4 linked regions of the Homo sapiens genome follow. The protein of the gene in region 3 interacts with the protein of the main gene of each other region in a biochemical or structural test. Each region holds a gene or a part of one and is shown on either strand. Other genes may lie near its edges.

Region 1 (4,785 bases), on a different chromosome or scaffold from region 3:
CTCGGGAATTTGGGCCTCTGATCCTCCTGGCCACACTACCCACCCCCGCACCTCCCCATACACACACACACACACACACACACACACACACACACACACACACACACACATACACACAGGACTTAGGACAGATGTTCACGGTCTGATTTCCAAATCCTCCTGGGCCTGTGTGGGGGTGGGGAGAGATTGGCAGATAGATCCACCGACTCTTAAGACTTAAGACCAGATATTCTGACCCCTGTCACCCTCTTCCAAGTGCACCATGCACTTGAGTGCACCTTGAGTCTCCAGCCTCTCAAGGAACCGGGAGATCAGGCCATCAGCGTCTCAGCCAGCAAAGGCCTGAACCACCAGTCCCTTATAACCCTGTAAGTCCAACCCCCACTCCCAACCCCACTCCCCCATTTAGGGACACGGAGTCTGAGCCTAAGAACAGTGGAGAATCTGAATGTGGACCCTCCAGTTCTTACAGGTCCAGGAATGTCAGATCAGGGTCCCAGCCCCCCAGCCCTCCTTCAGGCTGCTCGGGGTCCCTCCCACCTGCTCGGCCAGCTGCGCAGCGTGGGAACGCCCCAGCTGGGCTGCATGGAGCCGTCAGGACAAGCTGCGCGGTTCCCAGCCTCCCTGCCTGCCCCGGCCCGGCACCGCCGCCTCCCAGCCGTCGCCGGGCAACCAGGCCGAGGGGCCCGGCCGGCCGAGTGGGGAGAGGGGTTGGGCTGGGACTGCGGGGTCCTGGGAAAGGAGGGGCCGAGGGCCTGGATTCCTGGGTCTTAGGACGTGCTGTAGTTTGCAGCAATAACAAGGGAACAGAGGGATATTTTGAGGAGGGGTTTTGAGGCTGGGGGAGTCGAGGTAGGGGTCCCAACTGTCCCCCAGGTATCGGTGTGCCCTCTTCCCGACACGCAGGCCCGGGGGAGCCCCGGACCCCGCATCCCCCAGGGCGCGGAAACTGGCGAGGCCCCAGGAGCTCCCATTTATAGCTCAGTTTCCACTGAGCGCAGTCCCTCTAGGACCTGGGCTGAGCAAGTTTCTTCCACTCTCTCCCTTCCCTCCTCCTCACCCCTTGCCTGCCCCTCAACCCCGGCAGGGCGCAGGTGTCCAACCCAGCCGGGACCCCCTCCCTCCTCGAACCCAGGTGTTCCGGCTCCCAGACCCCAATTGAGCTGGGGGCGCCCACCCGCCGGGGGATCCCGCCCTGCGTCCCCCATTCATCCGCGTCTCAGCCGCGGGAGTTTCTCAACGGGAAGAGGGCGGAGCTCCCGGGGGGCGGACCCGGGCGGGGCGAGCGGGATCGGGCCCTCTTGGGGTCTCCCAGAGACCCAGGCCGCGGAACTGGCAGGCGTTTCAGAGCGTCAGAGGCTGCGGATGAGCAGACTTGGAGGACTCCAGGCCAGAGACTAGGCTGGGCGAAGAGTCGAGCGTGAAGGGGGCTCCGGGCCAGGGTGACAGGAGGCGTGCTTGAGAGGAAGAAGTTGACGGGAAGGCCAGTGCGACGGCAAATCTCGTGAACCTTGGGGGACGAATGCTCAGGATGCGGGTCCCCGCCCTCCTCGTCCTCCTCTTCTGCTTCAGAGGGAGAGCAGGTACCGCACGAGGGGAGCGGAGGAATATGGGGTGGGGGTGGGGAGTTGCTTGCGGGCTGCCTCTTCACTAGCGAGAAGGGAGCTGGGGGCTGGGACTCCTGGGTCCTGAATGAGGAGGCCCCTGAAGGTGCTAAGCTCAGCCCTGCTGCCCCGAACTCTCCTAGGCCCGTCGCCCCATTTCCTGCAACAGCCAGAGGACCTGGTGGTGCTGCTGGGGGAGGAAGCCCGGCTGCCGTGTGCTCTGGGCGCCTACTGGGGGCTAGTTCAGTGGACTAAGAGTGGGCTGGCCCTAGGGGGCCAAAGGGACCTACCAGGTAAGAGTGTTCTCTCCACGCTGGGACGGGCTGGCTAGGGGGAGAGTTGCTGGGCTCGGCTGTACCTGCAGTTTCTATTTTGACATTTTCAAGTTTGGGAAATTGATGGGCTCGGGTAAACATTTAGGAGTCCTGATTTTTGAGCTGCTTCTTTGGGGGTGACCCACGGAGTTTGGGAATTATTATGTTATTGCAAAATAGTACATAGGCCAGGTGCAGTGGCTCACGCCTGTAATCCCAACGCTTTGGGAGGTTGAGGCCAGAGGATCGCTTGAAACCAGGAGTTTGAGACCAGCCTGGGCAACATAACAAGACCTTATCTCTACACAAATGTATATATATATTTTAAACAAATTAGCCGGGTATGGTGGTGTGCATCTATAGTCCCAGTTACTCAGGAGGCTTAGGTGGTAGGATTGCTTGAGCCTAGGAGTTCAAGGCTGCAGTGAGCCATGATCAAGCCACTGCACTTCAGGCAATGGTGAGACCCTGTCTCAAAAAAAAAAAAAAAAGAGAACATAAATGCAAAAAAGTACAGTAAATATAAATGGAAGATTTACCAAATAAAATAGACACACACAGCCAATACCCAAGTCCATTGCTAGCTCCCCAGAAGACCCCGTGTTCCTTTCCCCTATCATAGCCCCCTCCCCCTCACTCCAGAAGTAGTATCTAACCTAATTTTTATGGCAATCATTTTCTTGCTTTCCTTCCTGACTTTATTACCCCTAAGTTTGCAGTGACTCTGGGTTGGGAGGGAGTTAGAGTCTCTCTGGGCCCAGTACACACTTTTTAATAGTGTCTTACCACCAAATGTGTGGGCCAGTTTTCTGGTGGAGGATGTCTGGGGATGGAGGCCTGAGGCCAGGATTTCAGAACCATGGTGTGCTGACTGCCTTCTCCCTGACTCCAGGGTGGTCCCGGTACTGGATATCAGGGAATGCAGCCAATGGCCAGCATGACCTCCACATTAGGCCCGTGGAGCTAGAGGATGAAGCATCATATGAATGTCAGGCTACACAAGCAGGCCTCCGCTCCAGACCAGCCCAACTGCACGTGCTGGGTAAGGACCTCGCCCACTTGTCCCCTGGGAGCCCAAGAGGGCAGCCCGTACTAGCTGTGAGTAGCAGAGCCCAGGGAGCCCAGGGGCATGGTCAATTGGAGCTGAGAAGATCAGGATCCATCTCTGACCCCAAATCCACCTTGCAGTCCCCCCAGAAGCCCCCCAGGTGCTGGGCGGCCCCTCTGTGTCTCTGGTTGCTGGAGTTCCTGCGAACCTGACATGTCGGAGCCGTGGGGATGCCCGCCCTACCCCTGAATTGCTGTGGTTCCGAGATGGGGTCCTGTTGGATGGAGCCACCTTCCATCAGGTCAGGTCCAAATTCCTGTGCTAGCCTTTGCCCATTGAGGGAAACTTGGGTTACACTCTGACCACAGGCTCATCCAGAAGAGAAGAAGACATGGGAGGGCAGAGGTTCATGGGTTTGGACTCTTGAAATATGATGCAGGGTAAAGATTCTAGGGCCAGACTACCTGGGTTCAAATTATGTCTCAGCCACTTGCTAGTTGATTGATCTTGAGTAAGTTAGTTAACCTCTCTGTGCCTCAGTTGCCTTATCTATACAATCAGGATAATAGTAGCATGCATGTCATAGGGTATTGTGAGAATTAAATAAATAAATACCTATAAATGCCCAGAAGAGTGACCAATACATAGTGAGCACTATATAAGTAAGGCAAGCTTGTCCAACCTGCGGCCCATGGGCTGCATGCAGCCCAGGATGGCTTTGAATGTGGCCCACCACAAATTCATAAACTTTCTTAAAACATTATGAGACTTTTTTGTAATTTTTTAGCTCATCAGCTATCATTAGTGTTAGTATGTGTGGCCTAAGACAATTCTTCTTCCAATGTGGCCCAGGAAAGCCAAAAGATTGGACACCCCTGATGGGTAGATGGCATTATTATTCTTATCCTTCCCTCCAGACCCTGCTGAAGGAAGGGACCCCTGGGTCAGTGGAGAGCACCTTAACCCTGACCCCTTTCAGCCATGATGATGGAGCCACCTTTGTCTGCCGGGCCCGGAGCCAGGCCCTGCCCACAGGAAGAGACACAGCTATCACACTGAGCCTGCAGTGTGAGTGCAGCTGGCCCTGGGAAAGAGGGGTGTGGGGCCCTGACTCCTGGGTATGAGGAAGGAGGGGACTGTGGCCCTTGGGGAATGAGGAAACTGGAGCCTGGACTCCTGGATCTAAGATAGCAGGAGAGGGCTGGGTATGGTAGCTCACGCCTGTACTCACAGAACTTTGGGAGGTCGAGGCAGGCGGATCATCTAAGATCAGGAGTTCGAGACCAGTCTGGCTAACATGTCGAAACCCCGTCTCTACTAAAAATACAAAAATTTGCCGGGCGTGGTAGCACACACTTGTAATTCCAGCTACCTGGGAGGCTGAGGCAGGAGAATCACTTGTACCCGGGAGGCAGATGTTGCGGTGAGCCGAGATCATGCCACTCAGCAGCAGAGTGAGACTCCGAGCAGGAGAGGACAGACAGCTGGGGTCCCTGGGGAAAGAGAAAGCTGGGCCTTGACTCTCACATCGGGGAGACTAGGAGAGGGCAGAAGGCTGGCACATTGAGGTAACTGGGGAAATTGGGAACTGAAAGCCCAGACTCCTGGCTCAAAGGGAGAAGGGGATTAGGGGCCCAGACTCCTGGGATGGAGGAACCAGGGACTGGACACCTAGGCCAGTGACGGAGGTGTTCCTGGTCCTTGCCCATCTGACCATTGTCCCACCCTCACAGACCCCCCAGAGGTGACTCTGTCTGCTTCGCCACACACTGTGCAGGAGGGAGAGAAGGTCATTTTCCTGTGCCAGGCCACAGCCCAG
Region 2 (4,172 bases), on a different chromosome or scaffold from region 3:
TGATCAGGCAGGTCATCTTTATGCTGACACTTTTAAGTGCCTCACACTTAATGGTCTCTCCTTGAGGCATATTAGAGTCACTGCTGTTTACCCCTGATCATAGCTGTTTGTAACAATCGATGCGGGGAAAATGCTCTCACTCACTCTGCGCTGTCTTTGGACCTCTGCTTAGCTCCCAGGACCCCCATCACTCTTCCACAGCAGCACACACATGTCTTTGCTGTTGCCCTTCCTGGAGCTGCAGAGGAGGACAACCTAGATCCTGTTCCTGCCAGTATTTGGGTGACAAAGTTTCCTGGGGATGCAGAGACTCTGTCCCAACCATCTTCACACACAGCCACTGAAGGCAGCATCAACCAGCAACCCAGCGGGGACAGCAATCCCACCCTAGAGCCGTCCCTGGAGGTCCACAGGCTGGAGAGGCTCGTGGCCCTCAAGAGAGTCTCCTCAGAGAGCTTTGCTTCCAGCCTTAGCACCCATCACAGGTAAGGGTGATGGGTGGGCCATTCAGGACAGGTGATGGGACTAGGATGAACACTGGAGTGCATCATGTGGAGTCTGACAAAAAAGATCTCAGCCATATTTTTTCTTAAGTGTGTGAAAAACCCAGGATGTAGCAGGGCTACTTGTCAGAAGGACTGGGTATGTTAATTACCCAGGGAAATTATTTTCTTGGATGGGGTGAGATCTCTGAGGTGCTGTTATAAGTAAAACTTTAAAAGTGACTTTTTATATTTTAAATATATTTATAATAACAACATAGAAATGTATATTTTATATAAAATAATAAGCGACAGCATTTGGTGAGTTCTTTGCCACCATTCTCACTCATCTCTCCCCTTCCTCTTCTCTATGGTTCCTGACTCCAAAATCAGAAGTTTTTCAAGTGAATCTGTTGCCATCTGCATACACAACTGTGGTAGGAAACATTGCTTTTTGGTCCAAAACTTAATGACCTGTTTTCAGCCCTTCCATTCTTCCCTTTAGAACTCAGGATGATCCCAGCTTTGATTCACTGGAAACTTGCCTGTCCTCAGATGGGGGTGAACAGGTAAGAACCTGAACTGTGAAGTGGGCTTGTGACTGGTATTTTGATCCTAGAATGGTCAGTTTCAGGCTGGGAAATCAGAGCTATTAGACTAGTAGCCAAAGTTAGAGAGAAGAAGGCAAAGTACAATATACACACAGTGTCTTTCTACTAATCAATACCTTTCCATTATATGCAGTGTCTCTGAAGTGATCGGCAATTGTAGAAATTGATGTTTTAGTGACTTGTCTTCTCACTTAGCCACAGTTAATAATTACTCTCTTCTCTCCTCCTCTATCCCTCCTTCATAACATTGACCTCAAAATGCCATGTATGGTCCCAGAAGTTAGATCAATGGTCAATATAAAATATAAATGCCCACTGATTTACTATTCCTTTGAAGTCTTAGAAGGAACACAAAATAAAACAAGGTGTAATGTTCTTACTTACATTTCTCAGAACCTACAGTGAGGTTAAATGGTCCCTCTTGCATGGGTCCTATCATAAGAAGACACACTCAAATCTCTCAGCCATAGAAGATGATGCAATCACCCATTGATATTTTGGTTTGGAAGCCACTTAAAGGACCCTAAGCTTATTCTTGTAACTGGCTTCCTTGTTCTCTGTGGGGTTTCCATTAGCTACCCCATCCCCATCAATAACAAGTGCATTTGTATCTAGTTGGGCATTTTACTTTGAGCTCCTTTAGTAGCAAGAAAGAGACTGGGTTTTTAGCTGCCTCCTGGGAGTCTTTAAGGAACCCCAGTTAGTTACAAAGTTCAGTGGCAGCTTAGGAGGAAGACCAGTACCTTTGACTCTTTTTTCCCTTTGTTTTTCTAGGACAAGACGAAGGCCTCTAACAGGACCGTGACACAGCCTCCTCTGTCCACCGTCCAGCTTACCTATCCCCAGTGCCTCTGGTCCTCTGAAACTTTCACAGGGAATGGGGTCAGGGCAAGCAACCCAATCCCTGTCCTCCAGACCTCTGGCACTTCTGGGCTACCTGCTGCTGGTGACCAGTCAGAGGCATCCAGGGCCTCTGCCAGCTTCTTACCTCAGTCAAAGCACAAGGAGCTCAGAGCAGGGAAGGGAAATGGAGAGGGTGGAGTGGGATACCCTCGGCAGACCAACCCACGGCCTGACATTGGGCTAGAGGGAGCCCAGGCCCCTCTGGGTATCCAGCTCAGAACTCCTCAGCTGGGAATTCTGCTTTGCCTGTCAGCCACCCTGGGCATGGCCCTGGCCGCTGGCCTTCGCTACCTGCACACCCAGTATTGCCACCAGCAGACAGAAGTGTCTTTCAGTGAGCCCGCTTCGGATGCTGTTGCCAGGAGCAACAGTGGTGAGACTGTGCACGTCAGGAAGATTGGGGAGAACAGTTTTGTTTTGGTTCAAGCAGAGTACAACTGGATCACTCCTTCTGTGGGTAGCAAGAAAACAGTCCTCTGAGAAGACTGTCACCCCAGACCTCTCAGTGGCCCTCCTTGGGCCCTGGAGAGTGTCCCAGACAGAGCAGAGATAATGAGAATAACTGATGAAGACAGGGACTCATTGTGCCTCTGTCAATGTGCAGTTAGTGGAGGAACCCGGGAGAGGACACTTTCATCAACAGAGGGAGTTATTCCTGAGCTTTGTTGTCTTAACATCTGTAATTGGGCTTCCTTCTTTCTTTTTGCAATTAGACGTTCTGTTTGAAGACTTAAACTCAACACAATGAATATTGTATAACCCGCTCATTAACTAGACCCCTGTGGCCACTAAGCTTCCTCTGTTGTGGTAAGGAAGCCATAGAAATAAAAATACTGTCCCTCCTTAGTGTCTCATCTCTTCTAACTCTTTGGGGAAAAAAAGTAATGTTGGGTTGTGTCTCCTGCAAGAAAAAGAACTGCAGCTCTCACTTTGCCTTCCTAAACCACCCCCAAAGAAGTTTTCTTTTCAAAACTGAATTCAACAACTTGCTAGAGTTCTGATTTGGATGACTAGGTGAATGCAAGGGTATTTGGTCTTCTGGGCAACTCAGCAGCCTGGCAAATCCGCCATGGAAATTGATCCAAAGTCAGGAAAGTTTTTGAGAGCTTGATTGAACACATCTTCAGGAAAACATATACATGCAACACAAGGCCGTAAACACCAGAGTGGGGTAAGAAAGCCTTTTCATCAGGTGTAAATGGATCTGAGACCTCCCATCCATTTACACTTGATGGAAACATTCGTGTATCCCAACAGCTAGCAGACATAGTGCCTTTTGCCAAAGGTCAGGCTGAAAAACATTATTATACCAGCATAGTTTGAAGAACAGTCTTTACTTGTCTTTTCAGGGAATATCAGGAAGAAAGCTTCATGGATGAAGGTCATCTACCTGATCTCATAACCTTATGAAGATTGCTTTGATTTAACAGTGGCTCCACAGATACTATCTGAGGTCAAAACAACAGATCTGAATATAACTCTTAAATATGCTCACCTAATATAGCACATAGGAATTAGCTGCCTTTTCAGAGTGAAACCTATTATAGAGTCATCATTTTAATGCAGAAACAAAAATCACTACAAATTCGGAAAGGATATTTGTTTATTGAACACCTAATTCATACGGGAACTGTGCTAAGTAGTTTGCGTATATCTTCACATTTAACTCTCACAAAAATTTAATGAGGAATAAGTTCAGTAGCTTTCCAAGGAGAATGAGGCTTTCCTTATACCTCAATTTAACAATTTTTAAAAATTGAGTGTTCAGGAAAGAGACAGCTCCTGCCTTTTCCACACCTCGCTTTAGCTCATTGGTCATCAATTCCAAGACTCTCTCCTCCTGGATTCTGGGCTAGGTAGCTCTGTTCCCTGGCTTCAGCCATTAGATGCATGGAGACCTAGGTAATTTGTGCATTCACAAATGAAAGTGTTCTAGGAATACTGTGGAAAGAAACAAAAGTACTGTAGTCTAATAAGGCCACAGATATCCCTTCTGTATGTCTAGCCCTCTAAAAGACGTTCTCCCCAAGAAGCAAACAAGGGACCCCATTAGTGGAGAGCTTTCATCTGGCCACATCACATCAGAGCCAGATGCACCATGTATGCAAACTTTTTTAGATCTTTTCTGTCTAAGAGAGAATTTTCCTATGTAAACAGACTGTTTTGCTTGTCTATT
Region 3 (4,844 bases):
ATGAATTGCATGTTCACTATATACCAAAAATGGTGCTAGGTATTTTTTTTTTTTTTTTTTTTTTTGAGATGGAGTTTCGCTCTTTCACCCAGGCTAGAGTGCAGTGGTGCGATCTCGGTTCACTGCAAGCTCTACCTCCCGGGTTCATGCCATTCTCCTGCCTCAGCCTCCCAAGTAGCTGGGACTATAGGCACCCGCCACCACACCCAGCTTTTTTTTTTTTTTTGTATTTTTAGTAGAGATGGGGTTTCACCGTGTTAGCCAGGATGGTCTCGATCTCCTGACCTCGTGATCCGCCCGCTTCGGCCTCCCAAAGTGCAGTGATTACAGGCATGAGCCACCACGCTCGGCCAGCAATTTTATATTCATTATCTTGTTAAGTCCTCATCATGACCTCATAAGGTATATGTTACAATTTCACAGATTAGGAAGCTAAGTACAGATATCTTAGCTTGCTAACATGTTCCTGCTGAGGATATATGGGAGAGTCTGGCCTTACCTTATTCTGCCTGACTCCAAAAGCATGGTCTTTTCCTTACACTGTGCTGTCCCCATGCACACGGGAGGAATGGTTACAATCTAGGGCAGCGCTCCTCTCTAGAAAGGACCAGTCTTGTAAGAACCCTCTGGGCTGGGGTTGAACCACACTCTATATTCCAGCAGTGCCAGAAGCTCAGCCTAATCTGCACCTGGATCTCGGGAGGGCAGGGATGGAGGTGGCTGAGGAACTACCTGCTTCTACTTGGGTGTCAAGGGTCAACTAGCAGCATCTCCAGGGCCAGATATTGAGCCAGATGGTCAGCATTTCCCTCTGGCAGTTGGCAGAGGGTTATTAAAGTTACCTTTTTCTTCTTCCCTCCTAGGTTGTGGATCTGGTCAGAAAGAGTGGGAATTCAGTGACTTTACTAGTTCTGGATGGGGATTCCTATGAGAAAGCAGTGAAAACACGGGTGGACTTGAAAGAGTTGGGTCAAAGTCAGAAGGAGCAAGGTTTGAGTGATAATATACTTTCCCCTGTGATGAATGGAGGTGTGCAAACTTGGACCCAGCCCCGGCTCTGCTATCTCGTGAAGGAAGGAGGCAGCTATGGCTTCTCTCTGAAAACTGTCCAAGGTGAGAATTTTTTGGGGAGCAGGGGGAGGCAGGGGCAGGGCACAGACAACAGGCTTCCAGAACAAAGATGCTACTGGTTAATGACTTTTCTTCTTTGACTGACTTTTCAGTTGCTATAGATAGCTTGCAACAGCTTGCCTCCCTCCGTCTCTCACTCCCTCCCTGCCCTTTCCCTTGCCTTGCACAGTTGTGCAATGGGGGAGGGACACTGGACAGCAGTGGGGGTGGGGGGCACTGGGTACTCCTGTCCCTGAGTGTTTGTCAGGCTGGCACTTGAGGACTCTTTGAGGTCAGGGGGCCAGAGGGTTGATGCTTCTAGCCCTCTTAGGGTGAAAATGAAGGGCAGAATAAGGAATAAAAGGCAAGAAAAATGAGATTCTTCATAATAGCTATTTTTGAGTAAGATTGGTATCTTTTTTTTATCTGAGTGCCCAGATAGTCATTCATTTATTCAACAAATTCTTGAGCACCTGCTGATGTGCCAGGCACTGTTACCTTTGCTGAGAATACCGCAAAAATTTCCACCCTCCTGTAACATTTTGATAGTACCCTCAGCTGCGGCTCAGCCCCACCTGTTCTGAGGCGCATCTTTGAGCTCTGGCTAAGAGGTACATAGTGATTTGAGAAACCCTGACCATCAGGAAGCACCAGAAGTTCTATTTCTAGAATTTCAGAGGTGCAGACTAACCTGTGTTCAGTTGACCGTGGCTCTGGGGTATTGGTTGGAACCAGAGGAGCTGTGTTAGCTGGTCAATTCCTTCTTGAACACTGCCTCTGCCTATGTTCTTTCTGGGGCTGGAGAAGCACTGGTGGTAGGTCATGATTTGGCAAGTGATACAGCAGCAGACCAGTGGTAAATTTAAAATAGTTTCTAAGGCTTATTTAACCTGTACCAAGAGATGTAAACTCACGATAAGGGGTATTTCTCAGGTCTGTCAGTTATTAAACACAGTGGTGTGTATAGTCAAAGGAAGCTTGGCACGTCTTAGAAGCCTATTATCAGTAAAGTGGTAAAAAAAAGAAAATCATAATTCAGATTCTACTCATCTGGCTCATGTGCTAATGCACATGGTGAATGGTTTAGGTTAGCTTTATGAGGAAAATGGTCTCTTCATGACAAATATATAACAAGGTAGCAGGAGAAATGCTGAGTGTTTAAGGAAGCAGAGTTTAAGTTATTGTCATTCCTTACAAGTGATTTATGTAGTCATTAGCAAGCGATCCCTTGCCTAGGTTGACATACAAGAGTCCCCCCTTATCCTGTTTGGCTTTCCATAGTTTCAGTTACCTTACCTGCAGGCAACTGTGGTCTGAAAATATTAAATGGAAAATTCCATACATAATTTTTGCATTGTGAACCATTATGAGTAGTGTAATGAAATCTTGTGCTGTCCTGCCCCGTCTTGGACATGAATCCTCTGTTTGTCTAGCATCTCCACGTGGCATGTGCTTACCTGCCTGTTAGTCTTACTACTTACTACTCAGTTACCAGGTCAACTGTCACGGTATTAAAGTACTGTGTTCAAATAATCCTTATTTTGCTTAATAATGGCCCAGCACAGAAAGAAAAATATCACATATTCTCATATGTGGGAGCTAAAAAAGGTGAATCTCATGGAGGTAGAGAGTAGAATGAGAGATACCAGCAGCTGGGAAGGGTATGTGTGTGGGGTAGGGTGGGGATGAAGAGAGCTAGGTTAATGGGTACAAACCCACAGAGAGAAGGAATAAGTTCTAATGTTTGATAGCACAGTGGGGTGACTGTAGTTAACAACAATGTATTGTACATTTCAAAATAGCTGTAAGAAGATTTGAAATATTCTCAACACAAAGAAATGATAAATGTTCAAGGATGGATGTCCTAAATATTACACCCTGATTTGTTCATTATATGCTCTTGGTATCAAAATATGACACACACCCTATAAATATGTACAAATGTTATGTATCAATAAAAAATAATAGCTCAGGCCGGGCGCAGTGGCTCACGCCTGTAATCCCAGCACTTTGGGAGGCCGAGGCGGGCAGATCATGAGGTCAGGAGATCGAGACCATCCTGGCTAACACGGTGAAACCCTGTCTCTACTAAAAATACAAAAAATTAGCCGGGTGTGGTGGTGGGCGCCTGTAGTCCCAGCTACTCAGGAGGCTGAGGCAGGAGAATGGTGTGAACCCGGGAGGCGGAGGTTGCAGTGAGCTCAGATTGCGCCACTGCACTCCAGGCTGGGCGATAAAGCAAGACTCCGTCTCAAAAAAAAAAAAAAAAAAAGCCAAAAATGCAAGGATAGTGATGCTGGCAGTTCAGATATGACAAAGAGAAGCTGTAAAGTGGCCGGGCACAGTGGCTCATATCTGTAATCCTAGCGCTTTGAGAGTGCGAGGCGAGTGGATTACCTGAGGTCAGGAGTTCGAGACAAGCCTGGCCAACATGGCGAAACCCCATCTCTACTAAAAATACAAAAATTAGCCAGGCGCGGTGGCAGGCGCCTGTAGTCCCAGCTACTCGAGAGGCTGAGGCAGGAGAATCGCTTGAACCGGGGAGGCAGAGGTTGCTGTGAGCCAAGATTGCGGCCCTGCGTTCCAGCCTAGGTGACAGAGCGAGACTCCATCTGTTAAAAAAAAAAAAAAAAAGGCTGTAAAGTGCTTCTATTAAGTGAAAAGTTCTCGATTTAATAAGGAAAGAAAAAATACTGTATGCTGAGGTTGCTAAGATTAGCTCAGTTATTGTTAATCTCTTACTGTGCCTAATTTATAAGTTAAACTCTATTGTAGGTATGTAAGCACAGGAAAAAACATATAGGGTTCGGTATACTATCTTAAAGTTTCAGGCCTCCACTGGGGGTCTTGGAATGTATCCCCCATGGTTAAGGGGGAACTGCTCTATTAATATCTTTGAAGAATTGACAGCATTTCTATAAGTAGCACCTAAATCTCACCACCTAAATGCATTCGGGTTCTTCCCTCCCTCCTGTGCCTGTCCTTGTTAGCCTACATTGGTGAGATGACTCCACAGCATACGATGGCTAATATAATAGTACAAACTGAAGAGGAGAGAATGGTAAAGATGCTTTCTGATTCTACAAATGCAAAGAAAGGGCGTATGACACAATAATGCAGTGTGGGCATGTTTTAGCGCTTTCTGGTTCAAGGGGCCAAGGCCACCCAAGATTCCATCTTTGCATTTAGCTGACCTCAGAAATTCTATTCAAATCAACAAATACCCACTGAGTAAAGGCTGTGTCAAGTTCAGTGCCAGGACCTATAACTGTGATTTTAGATCAGAAGCCAAAGGCCGAGTTAGCTCTAAAATCGGAAGTTTGTTTCACATTATTGGGAGAAAAGTCTTTACCATTGGATTTCGAGTTTTTCTTTGCAATGGAGTGTTCTGTGAAAGGGTGGTGTATGCAAAGCAGTCCCTCAAAGGCCAAAGGAGCTGAGAAACCAAAGGACAAGGCAGGCAAATCCAGTTTGTTGGTACATTGGAATTTATCAGGGGAACTTACGAACAGAAGCATGGTCTTGGACAGCCACAAAACATGTAGATCTCTGTGTTACTCCCCAGACCCAAGGCTGATATACCATAGGGAAAGGGTATATGTGCTCCAGCAAGACAATCGAAGGCAGCCCTCCGCAATAGCCAAGAATGCTATAGTGCATCATAGCCTATAATTTGCGTGATAACATTAAGGTTGACATGTTCTTAGACTAGGGACAGTAAATGAAGTAGAAAT
Region 4 (4,172 bases), on a different chromosome or scaffold from region 3:
ATGTGCCAAACTGGAATCCAGGTCTATCCTTAGATATTTTCAAATCACTGAACTTGTATGATAAAAACATTATTAATTTCCTAAACCACCTGATTTCGTCATATTGAATAAATGTGCATCTTTCTATCATTCTCAAATAATTTTTTTTTTGAGACAGAGTCTCACTCTTGTCACCCAGGCTGGAGTGCAGTGGCATGATCTCAGCTCACTGCAGCCTCTGCCTCCTGGGTTCAAGCGATTCTCCTGTCTCAGCCTCCTGAGTAGCTGGGATTACAGGCACCCGCCACCATGCCCAGCTCGTTTTTTTGTGTTTTTGGTAGAGATGGGGTTTCATCATGTTGGCCAGGCTGGTCTCAAACTCCTGACCTCAGGTGATCGATCTGCCCACCTCGGCCTCCCAAAGTGTTGGGATTACAGGTGTGAGCCACCACACCCAGCCATCTTTCTCGAATATTTTTTTTAAAAAACTTTCCATTGAACTTCAAAATTATAAAAATCATCAATCATGAAACTAATGCTGTATAAAATCCTCAAAAACAAGTTAAGCGCTGCTTTCAGAGGGCTATTTCCTCATTTATTTATTATTATTCCAGAATATGTATATTTTCACTGAGTCTTTAATTACTTCTACAACTCTTCTTTCCTTTAGCCCAGAGCAACCTGTCATTTCTAATAGCTAATAGCTTCCCTCAAATGCTTGGAAACAGGCTAAATAGCCTAAAAGAACTTTATTTACCCTAGTACAAAATGTTGAAAAGACACTCTACTGGAAACTGAATGGAACTATACAAATTTCTGTCCTGGAAATTAATGTTGTTTTTCCGTTTAATCACTGAAAGCATATTACTAAACATAAAAAATCATGGTTTATTTTTCTTTACATTTTATTATCTATTTTAATGTTGACTTTTTAAAATATTTTACCTGAGGGACAAAATGTTCATTTAAACCCAAATATTTTAAGATTTATTTCTGGTGTCTTTTCATCAATTATTTATAATTTATAATCCAGATTTCCCAAAGGGGATTCAAAGAAATCCACAAAAAATTTCCTAGTCTTCACTTTATTCTCTCAACTAGAGATCATGTTCTAAAGCAATGAATCTCTATTTTAATACTAAAATTTAAACAGAAGTCTCGAGATAGTCAATTCTCAGCTTTTGGGGAATACATTATTCTGCATATTAAGACAAAAATAGGATGTAAACCAGATGTTCCCAGATTATGAAATTTAGAAAAGAACATATTCAAAGTGAAGGTAACTTTTAGCATATGTATTTAAAGATATTGCAGTCACGCCCCACAATATTGAAATGCTATATTTCTCATAGTTTGACTACATTCAGTGGAAATATTCATGTGTTTATATTATCAGGTTTTTAGTGAGTTCTATCATTTTTGTAATTGCTATAGCTAGTATTAATAAATGTCTTCTTTTTATATGCTGAAATAAATTAATGGAGGAGGCAGACACTATGCAAAATGGCTGGGAATGAGGCCAAATCTTTTTACATACATCCAGGGACCAGTAATCTTCTAAATGGCACTTTAAGCTCTCTTGCCTAAATAATTACAAGTACAGCCACCATGTAATTTACTGAAATAATTATCCACTCTTCTAGTTCCCATCACCATCTCAAGTCCATAGCACTTACCTTGTCTTTATTTTCAGAGCCAGAAGCCTCAGGCTTGGTTCTAATCACAAACGGGGTAGACAGTCGCAGCAGGACCCTTTCAAAGGTGGCATTAACCTTTGGAGATACAATCTCGAAGCAGTCCTCAAACTTGAGCACTTTGTGAGTGTCACATCGAAGCTGCTTCCTTAGACCTTCCCCCAACTGAAGGACTGACATGCTGGGATCAAACATCAAGTGGAAAGGGAAGGCTCTACAGAAGGTGTTGATGCTAATTCTGAGGTCCGCAGGAACTTGGGAGGTTCCCTGTGGAAGGTTCTTCATGATATTAGTATTTTCACATTCTTTGATAAGGAAAGTAAGACAGCTACAATTGCCTGGGTTTGAAACATCAGAGCATAGCTTCTCATTTGCAACCTGTTCCACTTCCACATCCAGCCGATAGATCTTCTTTCCTGCAGCCTTAATCATCCCCAGCATTGCAAACCCCACAATATGGTGAGGGTGGAAGTAGTGGAGCATGAGAGTACCTTCAGGGAGCTCTTTGCATAGGAAAGATGGTGACTCCAGAGTGGCCTGTTTTCCAAAAGAAGTTCTAATGTGTTCCAACAAAGCATCAAAGCCGTTAAAAAAGTCCTGCAAAGTGCCACCTACAGCTCGAAGGACTCTCTCATTCTCATGAAAGCATATATTAAAGAACTCTTCACCAAATCTTTTTTGAATTTCCTCAAACTTCAAACCTAGAGGTAAATGGGAAGCAAATGTTAGTGAAGTCTAATATAAATAATTGAATTTATAGCTTTTTAAGTGCTTATCAAAAGAGTAACTACTGAATAAAGTAACAAAGGTTATTTCTCTTAGATCCACAAATTTCCACATAGGTTAATTCACTCATCTTGAATCAGAAAATATAAATTTCAGTTCATCTTCAGGATGCCTCTAAAATGTTAATGAACATGAACCTTTTTGTTTGTTTTTAAATAGACTACATATTTTTAGACCAGTTTTAGAGTCACAGCAAAATTGAGCAGAAGGCACAGTTATTTCCCATATCTCTCTGCCCCGACACATGCACAGCCTGCCCCATTATCATATCTCCCACCAGAGTGGTACATTTATTACAATCCATGAACCTACATGATGCATTATTATCATCCAAATTCCATGGTTTACATTAAGGCTCACTCTTAATATTGTATATTCTGTGGGCTTAAACAAATGTATAATGATATGTATACACTTATCATATCACTTAGAGCATTTTCACTGCCCTAAAAATCCTGTTTATCCCTTCCTTCTCCCTAACTCCCAGAGCATCAGCTTTTTAAATGTTGCTAATCTAGCTGTTCACCTTTCAATAGCCTTGCAGTAGTTATCATAAATAATATATTTTTCTTTTTCTTAATGATTTCCCCATTCTTCACAGAATATCCAAGTTGCCTACATATTATGTCCATATTACATCCATATTATCATCTTACTTCTTATCGAAATGCATGTATTAAGTGGAAAATATAAACCAGAAAAGAAATCTATGGCACATGAATGGGGATAGGCATCAAGCTATCTGGTGGAAACAAAAGGCTTACATTAGCAATCTCAGGGAAAGACATGCAGGTCAGCTAGACCTCAGGGAAAAGGAGAAAAAACAAGAAAATAATAATGACAGAACTCTGGAATGATTTACATTCTTTCACCCACAAAAGTAAGGGCAGCCAAGCATGGAGGAGGAATCTGATGAGACAGAATTAAAGGTTATTGTTAAGTTTTCTCCATATATAATCACTCCCTGATGCCCTGGCAAAAGAGTTCCACCTTATAGTGCTGGATATTACAATGAAAAATAAATAAGTGTGCACAATGTATTCTATCGTAATAAGAAGCAGGATCACATGTGATCACAAGATCCCCCCCTTGAGGATGATATGAGGAAAAATGAGGGAATTTATGTGCCAAAGAGGACTATAACACATACAAAAGATTTTGGCCTGCATATTAAAGACAGCTTCTACCTAAACTCTATTGCTTCTCCTTTGACATTGGTTGAAATCAATACATGTAGTTTACATATTCATATTTTCTTGCCCCATTTCCATCATCTCATTTGAAGTCCTGCAAATCAGGCAGGACTGGGAAAAGAAGGTCACTTTGCTAGCGCCCCATTAGAGTGCAGAGCAATCTAGGCTGTCTACAGCTTAGCTGCTTTCCTACCTTTATCATTCCCTGAGTGTTCCTCCCAGCCAGAAGTGAGGCAAATGAACAGAGTGAATAATATTGTTTTTAAAATAGTCAAAGCACATCTAATATTCTTTAAGAGCTTACTATAGAGTCTAAAACTTCTGGTAGCCAAGAAGTCAGTTTGACAAAGAACTTCTTAAAATCAATGTGATAGGAAAATGAGTAGAAAACCTAAGTGAGAAACAGTCCCTTTATTAATAAGCATTTCATATTCATTTTGGTTTCATGGATTGGATGCTCAAGACTTGTTGAGAAAGTCACTTATTAAGATAAAAATATCACCACTCATGTCACATTGCC

Evidence for each region. The genes of interacting proteins can lie anywhere in the genome.
Region 1: the proteins of PDZK1 (region 3) and KIRREL2 interact in a test that uses a peptide from one of them, tested with the Homo sapiens proteins (one large-scale study listed by IntAct).
Region 2: the proteins of PDZK1 (region 3) and REELD1 interact in a test that uses a peptide from one of them, tested with the Homo sapiens proteins (one large-scale study listed by IntAct).
Region 4: the proteins of PDZK1 (region 3) and GUCY1A2 interact in a test that uses a peptide from one of them, tested with the Homo sapiens proteins (one large-scale study listed by IntAct).

The regions. Positions count from the first base shown.
Region 1 is NC_000019.10:35,855,598-35,860,382, forward strand, and holds the start of KIRREL2 (kin of IRRE-like protein 2 isoform c precursor), read left to right. Parts: upstream 1-1,313; 5' UTR 1,314-1,522; coding exon 1,523-1,583; intron 1,584-1,747; coding exon 1,748-1,897; intron 1,898-2,810; coding exon 2,811-2,960; intron 2,961-3,106; coding exon 3,107-3,267; intron 3,268-3,883; coding exon 3,884-4,034; intron 4,035-4,699; coding exon 4,700-4,785. UniProt on the Homo sapiens protein: May regulate basal insulin secretion.
Region 2 is NC_000004.12:146,228,038-146,232,209, forward strand, and holds part of REELD1 (reelin domain-containing protein 1 precursor), read left to right. Parts: intron 1-172; coding exon 173-485; intron 486-987; coding exon 988-1,051; intron 1,052-1,867; coding exon 1,868-2,476; 3' UTR 2,477-4,172.
Region 3 is NC_000001.11:145,682,746-145,687,589, reverse strand, and holds part of PDZK1 (Na(+)/H(+) exchange regulatory cofactor NHE-RF3), read left to right. Parts: intron 1-863; coding exon 864-1,113; intron 1,114-4,844. UniProt on the Homo sapiens protein: A scaffold protein that connects plasma membrane proteins and regulatory components, regulating their surface expression in epithelial cells apical domains.
Region 4 is NC_000011.10:106,937,805-106,941,976, forward strand, and holds part of GUCY1A2 (guanylate cyclase soluble subunit alpha-2), read right to left. Parts: intron 2,375-4,172; coding exon 1,656-2,374; intron 1-1,655. UniProt on the Homo sapiens protein: Has guanylyl cyclase on binding to the beta-1 subunit. Isoform 2 acts as a negative regulator of guanylyl cyclase activity as it forms non-functional heterodimers with the beta subunits.